2 linked regions of the Homo sapiens genome follow. The protein of the gene in region 1 interacts with the protein of each later gene in a pairwise test. Each region holds a gene or a part of one and is shown in the gene's direction. Other genes may lie near its edges.

The links. Proteins that work in one complex are often made in the same cells at the same time.
Region 2: the proteins of PPM1K (region 1) and AATK interact in a two-hybrid assay, tested with the Homo sapiens proteins (one study listed by BioGRID and IntAct).

Annotation. Positions count from the first base shown.
Region 1 is NC_000004.12:88,271,062-88,274,561, reverse strand, and holds part of PPM1K (protein phosphatase Mn(2+)-dependent 1K), read left to right. Parts: intron 1-107; coding exon of another isoform or gene 108-136; intron 137-3,274; coding exon of another isoform or gene 3,275-3,467; intron 3,468-3,500. UniProt on the Homo sapiens protein: Serine/threonine-protein phosphatase component of macronutrients metabolism.
Region 2 is NC_000017.11:81,156,222-81,159,721, reverse strand, and holds part of AATK (serine/threonine-protein kinase LMTK1), read left to right. Parts: intron 1-3,500. UniProt on the Homo sapiens protein: May be involved in neuronal differentiation.

The DNA of each region.
Region 1 (3,500 bases):
CTCCAGTTTCTTTCATCTTTTCTCTTTTAGTATTAACCCCTTTCCCCTCTTCTTGAACCCTTCCTGTGAGGTGAAGGACTGTGGCTTATTCATTTTTGAATCTCCAGTGTGCAGCACCCTGCATAGAACCTGGCAGGTACTCAATAATTATTTGGATTGAACTGAGATCTCCACGCTGACTCTTTCTCACTGAAGTTACTGTAATTTTTTCTTTGATTATCATATAGCTGATTTAATCAAATTATTATAAAATGTTTGCATTTTAATGAGCTGTCACTCCTGGGTGGATTTGAATTTTAGTTAGCAGACACCTGAAAAAGGCTTAAACCATAGAAGTGAATTACTAATGGTGAGATTTTAGGTATAAAAGAGAGGCGTGCCGCTCAGTCCTACTGAAGCAGCATTGCTCGTCTGGCGTAATACTTGAGTTTCATTGTCTCATACCAAGGAAATCAAGGACGAGGACACACAAGGAGTGAGGTTAGGAGTGGAGACTTAATAGGTGAAAGAAAGAGAAAAGCTCTCTCCTGCAAAAAGAGGGGTCCCAAACAGCTTTCTAGTCCATGGTGAAGTGCAGGAGGCTTTATGGATGAACTTGAGGAGGCAGTGTCTGATTTACATAGGGCATGAAAGATTGGTTGGACCAGATGTGCCATTTGCATAGCACACGAAAAACTGATTAGGCCTAGGTGTGCAATTTGCAGAGCATTCAAGAATCTGGCCACCCCCACCCTAATCTTTTATTATGCAGATGGGTTCTCTACCTGGCCAGCGCCATGTTGCCCATTTCTTTACACATGGTGACAAAGAAAAGGGAAGATGGAACATATTGAACATGCTTGGCCCCAGGTAGCCCTTTTCTTTTTCTTTTTTTTTTTTTTTGAGACAGTTTTGCTCTAGTCTCCCAGGCTAGAGTGCAATGGTGCAATTTCAGCTCACTGCAACCTCCACCTCCCAGGTTCAAGTGATTCCCCTGCCTCAGCCTCCCAAGTACCTGGGATTATAGGCGCCTGCCACCATGCCTACCTAATTTTTGTATTTTTAGTAGAGGCGGGGTTTTGCCATGTTGGTCAGGCTGGTCTCTAACTCCCGACCTTGGGTGATCTGTCCGCCTTGGCCTCCCAAAGTGCTGGGATTACAGGCGTGAGCCATTGTGCCCAGCCCAGGTAGTACTTTTCTATTGGCACAGCTGCTGGCATTCACCTGTGCAAGCTTCCAGCTTGCTTATTTATGTTTGCAGCTCAATTTTTCAGGTTGCTCTTTGTTAGAAAAGAAATGGTTTGGAGGCTGCTTTTTGTTAAAAGGGAAGCCTTGCCACGGACTCCTTTACCCTCACTATGTGCCTACATAATTTATTTCTAGCTCCTGTATCAATACCATATTAACTTTCTTAAGTGAAATTAAAACATTCTTATCTCCTCTCAACTTCAGTTCCAAAGCTGTTACAGCTACATAAAGAACTTCAAATTATCTTACTAACATTTAAAATATTTACTGTTGAATGGCATTGCTGTTGCCTGAGCAAGTTCACACTCAAGTTACACTTAGTGAGAGCTCTTTTCTGCCCGGCATGTGTGAGTTCAGCGTGGGCAAGAGACTTTTATGTGCATTCAGTCCTTTCAGAAATGAGACGATGCCAACCACAGACGCAGCATGTCCTGGATGACTGATCTGTAAAATATAATAAAAGCTTATTGTTTGAGTAGAAAATAAAATAAAATAATTTACTGTTGTAGCTGGGGATATTTTGAAAAGAATAAAATCAAAATGCCACTTATCAAGAAATGGCAAGAACAAGATTCCCTTGCCCTTAAGAAATTGTCAGCTATTTTTATTGCTTTTTTGTTAATGCATTTTCAACCTGTCCTTAGTTATCAGTAGCAAATTTCATCACCATCTTTTAATTTTTTTATTCAATTTATACCAGTAATGTCTACTTTTACAATTAATAAAAGCAGCCAGTAAATCCGGATGATATCCCACCAGTCCGTTGTTTATAAAGAGATAGCCACTTAGAACAAACTAGATGGTAGAAAATTAGGTTATAATTCTATATTTCCTATAAGCTCTTCAGAGTGTTTCCAGATTGCTTAAACTTTGAAAGCAACAAAGCTCCGAAAGGGACAAATGGAACAAAAAGAGAAGACTTGCTCAGACATTCAGAGTGGGGGACATTGATGGCATTATGAGTCTCACCAGAAACTTTTATGTTCTTCATATCCTGTGACCTCTTTATGGAAGAATTAAACTACAAAAGAACCAGGGCTGTAAACACAGCATTTTTGAATCCCCTATGCCGGGACAGCCAAAAGAAAAAAAAAGAGAGCATTGATGAGATGTTCTTACCGTGCTGCTACTGCTTCAGCTCATTACTTTGATTTTGGTGTTCATGAGTCATGAGTCTAGAACACCCATTTTTAATAAATATTGAAACTGTATTGGTTTATACATAGTATTATTTACACAATTGAGTAATTACTAGGGGTCATTATACTTTGAAAAGTATAGCTTTTGCTCTTTATGTTGGCATTCACAATCTTGATCATTTTTCTTTTGATGTGTCGGCCTGCAACACTGGGGGAAAGAGAGAGCTGCAGAAATACCCATTTTGTGAATTATACAAAATTATAAACATGCGTCTCGCTAGCCTTTATTTAAGCAATGAATTTAAATTAATCATTCTACTCAAAAATGCCTTATAGGTACTAAGTCTCTGCATTAAGCACCATTAACAAATGCATTACTCTATGTATCTTGTATAGCGGGTGCTTTGATTCCTTCTTGATATATATTTAAGTCCCAGTAATTTGGTGGTATACTGTAGTTTACATCCTGCTTGTCAGATACAAATTCTTCCATGCTGTAACTGTAGATTTACCTTTCTATTCTTGAGACAATTCTGATATTGCTACCAAACAAATTTACAGTGCATTTTTTGTAACTCAGTAAAGGTAGTGATTTACTGTGTTTAAGACCAATTATTTCAGTGAATGTGTATATGCGTGAGTGTTTTTGTGAGTGTGTTAAATGTAGGTCTGTGTCACCATTTATGTGTCTTGGTACAGATACTTTTTTATATAGTTTTTTCAACCTTAGAAACCACAAAATTAAGAAAGAAGTGTTACCCTGTGATGAAAAAATAGGCTCAACTACAAAATACCATCAACTGGAACAAACTGAGTTTTGGAATAATTGATTTGGCATCTCCTGGAATATTATATAATTTGCTAGTTAAATTTTCACCAAAATAAAAAACCCTTCCCTTATTTTGCAGCTCTTTCTCTGCTCTCCCCTGTGTTGCAGGTTTGTAATGTTTGAGCACAATTCCTGGGTGAAATTCGTATTTGCCTCTGTGCGTGTTATTTGTGGCAGAGAACTGTGCCTGGTCAGCAGCTCTAGACCTGGAGCCCGTGGACACTATATGCGGGGCTTCAGTGGAAAGAGAGATCTGCTTAATTTTGTCCCAGGTGAAGGAGTCCAGCGGTTCCTATCCTGGACTA
Region 2 (3,500 bases), on another chromosome or scaffold:
CCTCGGTGTGAGGATCCTCCGACGAGGCCCTGGTGCTCGGTGGGGCCCCTCTGGCTTCCCTTCTGCTCTGCTTCTGGGAATTCTTAGTGACTCTGAACAAGGGGCCTTGGGTTCCCTTGGTACTTGGTCCTGCGGATTCTGCAGCCGGTGGGGCTTGCTTAGGGTTTGGGCTCCGCTGTGAGGCCCACGTGGAATTTCCTCGAACCCCCTGCGAAAAAGGCGTGTGGCTTCCTAGTGACCACGGCACACACAAGTGCGCTCTGACCTCCGGGGTGCGGGTCCGGGGCTTCCCCGCATTGGATTTACCCGCGCGGCAGCACGCCCAGCCCCCGAGAGTCCCCGCCACTGCCCCCAGGACTGCTACCTGGCCGGTCACTCGCAGGCCGCCGGCGCCCTCCCAGCTGCCCCATGTTGGGGATCTCGCTCGCTCTCTGTGAATGATGCTCAGTTGTGGGCTGTCCCGTGGGCTGCTATCGTGGACGCTGGAGTGAGGGCCCCTTTACTGAGAGGTAACTCACATACCAAGGACCCACCTGTGTCAAATGAGCAGCTGGGGCTTTCCTGCATTCCCAAGAGTGCAGCCATGGCACGGCTAGCTGTGGAGCATCCCTGCCCCTGACAGAAGCCCCATGCCCGAGGGCATCACTCCCCATCCCCTGCCCCCAGCCCTGGCAGCCACCGATCTGTCTCGGTCTCTGGGCCCCTGGCCTGGACGTCTGTCTCATAAGCAGGGTCCTGTGGCCTTGTCCTCTTTGGGCCCTGAGGTTTTCGCTGTGTGTATAGCGGCCCCAGGGATCAGGGGTGCTGGTGTGTGACTGTGGGGCACTGTCCAGGGAGCTTCCAGGAGGTGGTGCCATTTTGCCCCCATCCCCATGGACGAACGCCTCCATGGCTTCCCCTCCCGCCAGTGCTGGCTGCTGTTTTTATAACGCCCGGGCTCGTGAGCATGTGGGGGCTGCCCATGGTGGTCTTGTCTGCCTTTCTGTGGCGAAAGATGTCAGGAGCCTTTCCAGGTCCTGCCCAGCTCTTCTGAGCCCCTCAAGCGAGTGCCCATTGGAGGTATTTTTTGGTGGTTTGTACCTGGTGTCGGGCAGCCCTGGCCAGCTGGCCTGTGGGAGCCAGGCTCGGGGCAGTGGGCAGGTCCTGGACACAAGGCCTCAGGTCTGTGCGCAGTGAGCAGGTGGCCTGCTGCTTCACTTCCCGTGACCCTGTGCAGGGCTGAGCACCAGCAGCTTCCACCCTGAAATGGGCCGAGGTGAGAGCACTTGCGGCAGGAGCCGGCACACGCCCCGCTTTCCTTCCCAGGGAGCTGGGTGCAGACACTGACCAGCACACCGCCAGGCTCAGGCACCTTCTCTCCCTGGGAAGCTGCCTGGAATCTCTGTGGCCCAGAGGCAGGTGTCCCTGAAAGCAGCTCCTGGCCCCAGGGATGAATGACGGGGAGGACGGACCCTGCTCGGACCCTGGCTCTGGAGGCTGGGCCCCGCCCTGCTCTCTGCCGCGGGGTCTGGCGAGATGCTTGGCTGCTGCTGGAGCCTGAACTAGCGCGTCAGACTGTTTTATTTTTCCTTCTGTGACGGGCGGCCCTGCAAGTCTTGTCTAGAAATACCCGTGGCCGGCATGCATCCGCGACGCCCGGCCGCCCTGGCCATGGACCTGCCCGTTTCCTCCTTGGCAAGCCTGAGCCCAGCAGCCCCCTGCTGCTGCCCAGCCAGCACTGAGGGAGGGACTCAGTCCGTGCAGGTCTGTAGGGGGCCAGCTGGATGCCCGGCTGTGTCAGGGCCGGGGTCCTGAGACGCACAGGAGGGTAGGCCCCCACGAAGAGCGGGACCGAGGGCCAAGGTGTTGGGGGACAGTGTGCGTCGAGCAGAGACAGGCCAGGAGCGAAGAGATGGGGGCTGTGGGACCTTAGCTGGAGCTGCCTGCCCCTTGGAGGCTTCTCCACTGTCAGGGATCAGCCTCCTGGGGAACCGGGGGCATTCCAGGTGCCCTTCCCACCCTTGGACCAGCCTTGGGGTAGGCCCTGGGGCATCTGATGCTGATGCAGGCTGGGCCTGGGCTGTGTGTTGTGTCAACAGAGGGGACATTCCTTGTGAGTGTCCAGCTGGTGGAACTCACTTCCGTCCCTGGGCTGGCCTGGGCTGGGCACCCATGTTTGATTGCAGGGTTGGCTGTCGAGGGGCAGGAGAGGCGGACTTAGAGATGCTGGGGTGGTAACCCCCGGGAACTGTGCGGGGGTTCCCTGCAGCAGAGAGTAGGGCTGGTCCTAGCACTGGGGGAGGGCCGGATGCCCACCTTGGGGCTGCCAGCGTGTGCGGCAGGCATGTGCGTGGAGGGGTACGTGTGCGTCTATGAGCAAGTGCAGCCCCAGGTTGGAGGCGAGCGTGTGCATGGGCTGGTGCGGTGCCCGCGGTGTCGGATGGACCCGGCCCGGGCCCGTGGACCTTGCCATGTCCTGGGCTTGTCCCGGAAGCTTACATTTTATGTGGCCTCTCCTAAAAATAACCGTGGCTGGCCTGCATCCTCCTTATCCGTGGACATTCGGGCTCCCCTCTCTTGGCGGGGGCGGTGTCTTGTGACTTACAGCCCCTGCCCTGTCCTCACCTGCCACCCAGAATCCCACGCGGCAGATGGTGCCCACATCTGTCTGGTCTCGGGAGTGACTGTGGGGATGGTTCAGGGCTGGGCACGATGCCGCCACCAGGGCCTGTGGGGGCACCGTTGCTGTCCCAGAGGCTCCTCCTGCCCTCTCTCCCCTGTGTCGGGAGGCCTGTGGGGTCTTGCCGTACCCCGCCCAGGGCCCTGCTTCTGAGTTGGGGAGGGGGTCCTCAGTTTCGTGCCTGACTGGCGATCAGGGCCGAGGAGGGGTCTGCTGGACTGGGCTCTCTGTAGCAGGAGCTGATTGAATCCCAAAAGACACAATCCCAAGTGCCATCATCCTGAGTGTGGAAATCCCAAAAGGTCAAAATTCCAAAAACCGAATTCAGGAAAAAAATGATTTAAAAGATTCTTTAGAAGACATTTAGTCTGGGCGCGGTGGCTCACACCTGTAATCCCAGCACTTTGGGAGGCCAAGGCAGGCGGATCACCAGGTCAGGAGTTTGAGACCAGCCTGGCCAACATAGTGAAACCCTGTTTCTACTAAAAATACAAAAAATTAGGCGGGTGTGGTGGCTGGCGCCTGTAGTCCCAGCTCCTCGGGAGGCTGAGGCAGGAGAATGGCATGAACCCGGGAGGCGGAGCTTGCAGTGAGCCGAGAAGCACCACTGCACTCCAGCCTGGGCGACAGAGCAAGACTCTGTCTCAAAAACAAAACAAAACAAAAAACATTTATTTGCATTTGAAAAGGGATTTATTTGAAAAACATAAAAACTCAATAAAAATAAAAACTTCAGAGGCCACTTCACACAATAACACAGGCCATAGTAACATACATTGTAACATAGTAACATACATTGTAACATGGTAACATACATTGTAACATAGTAACATACATTGTA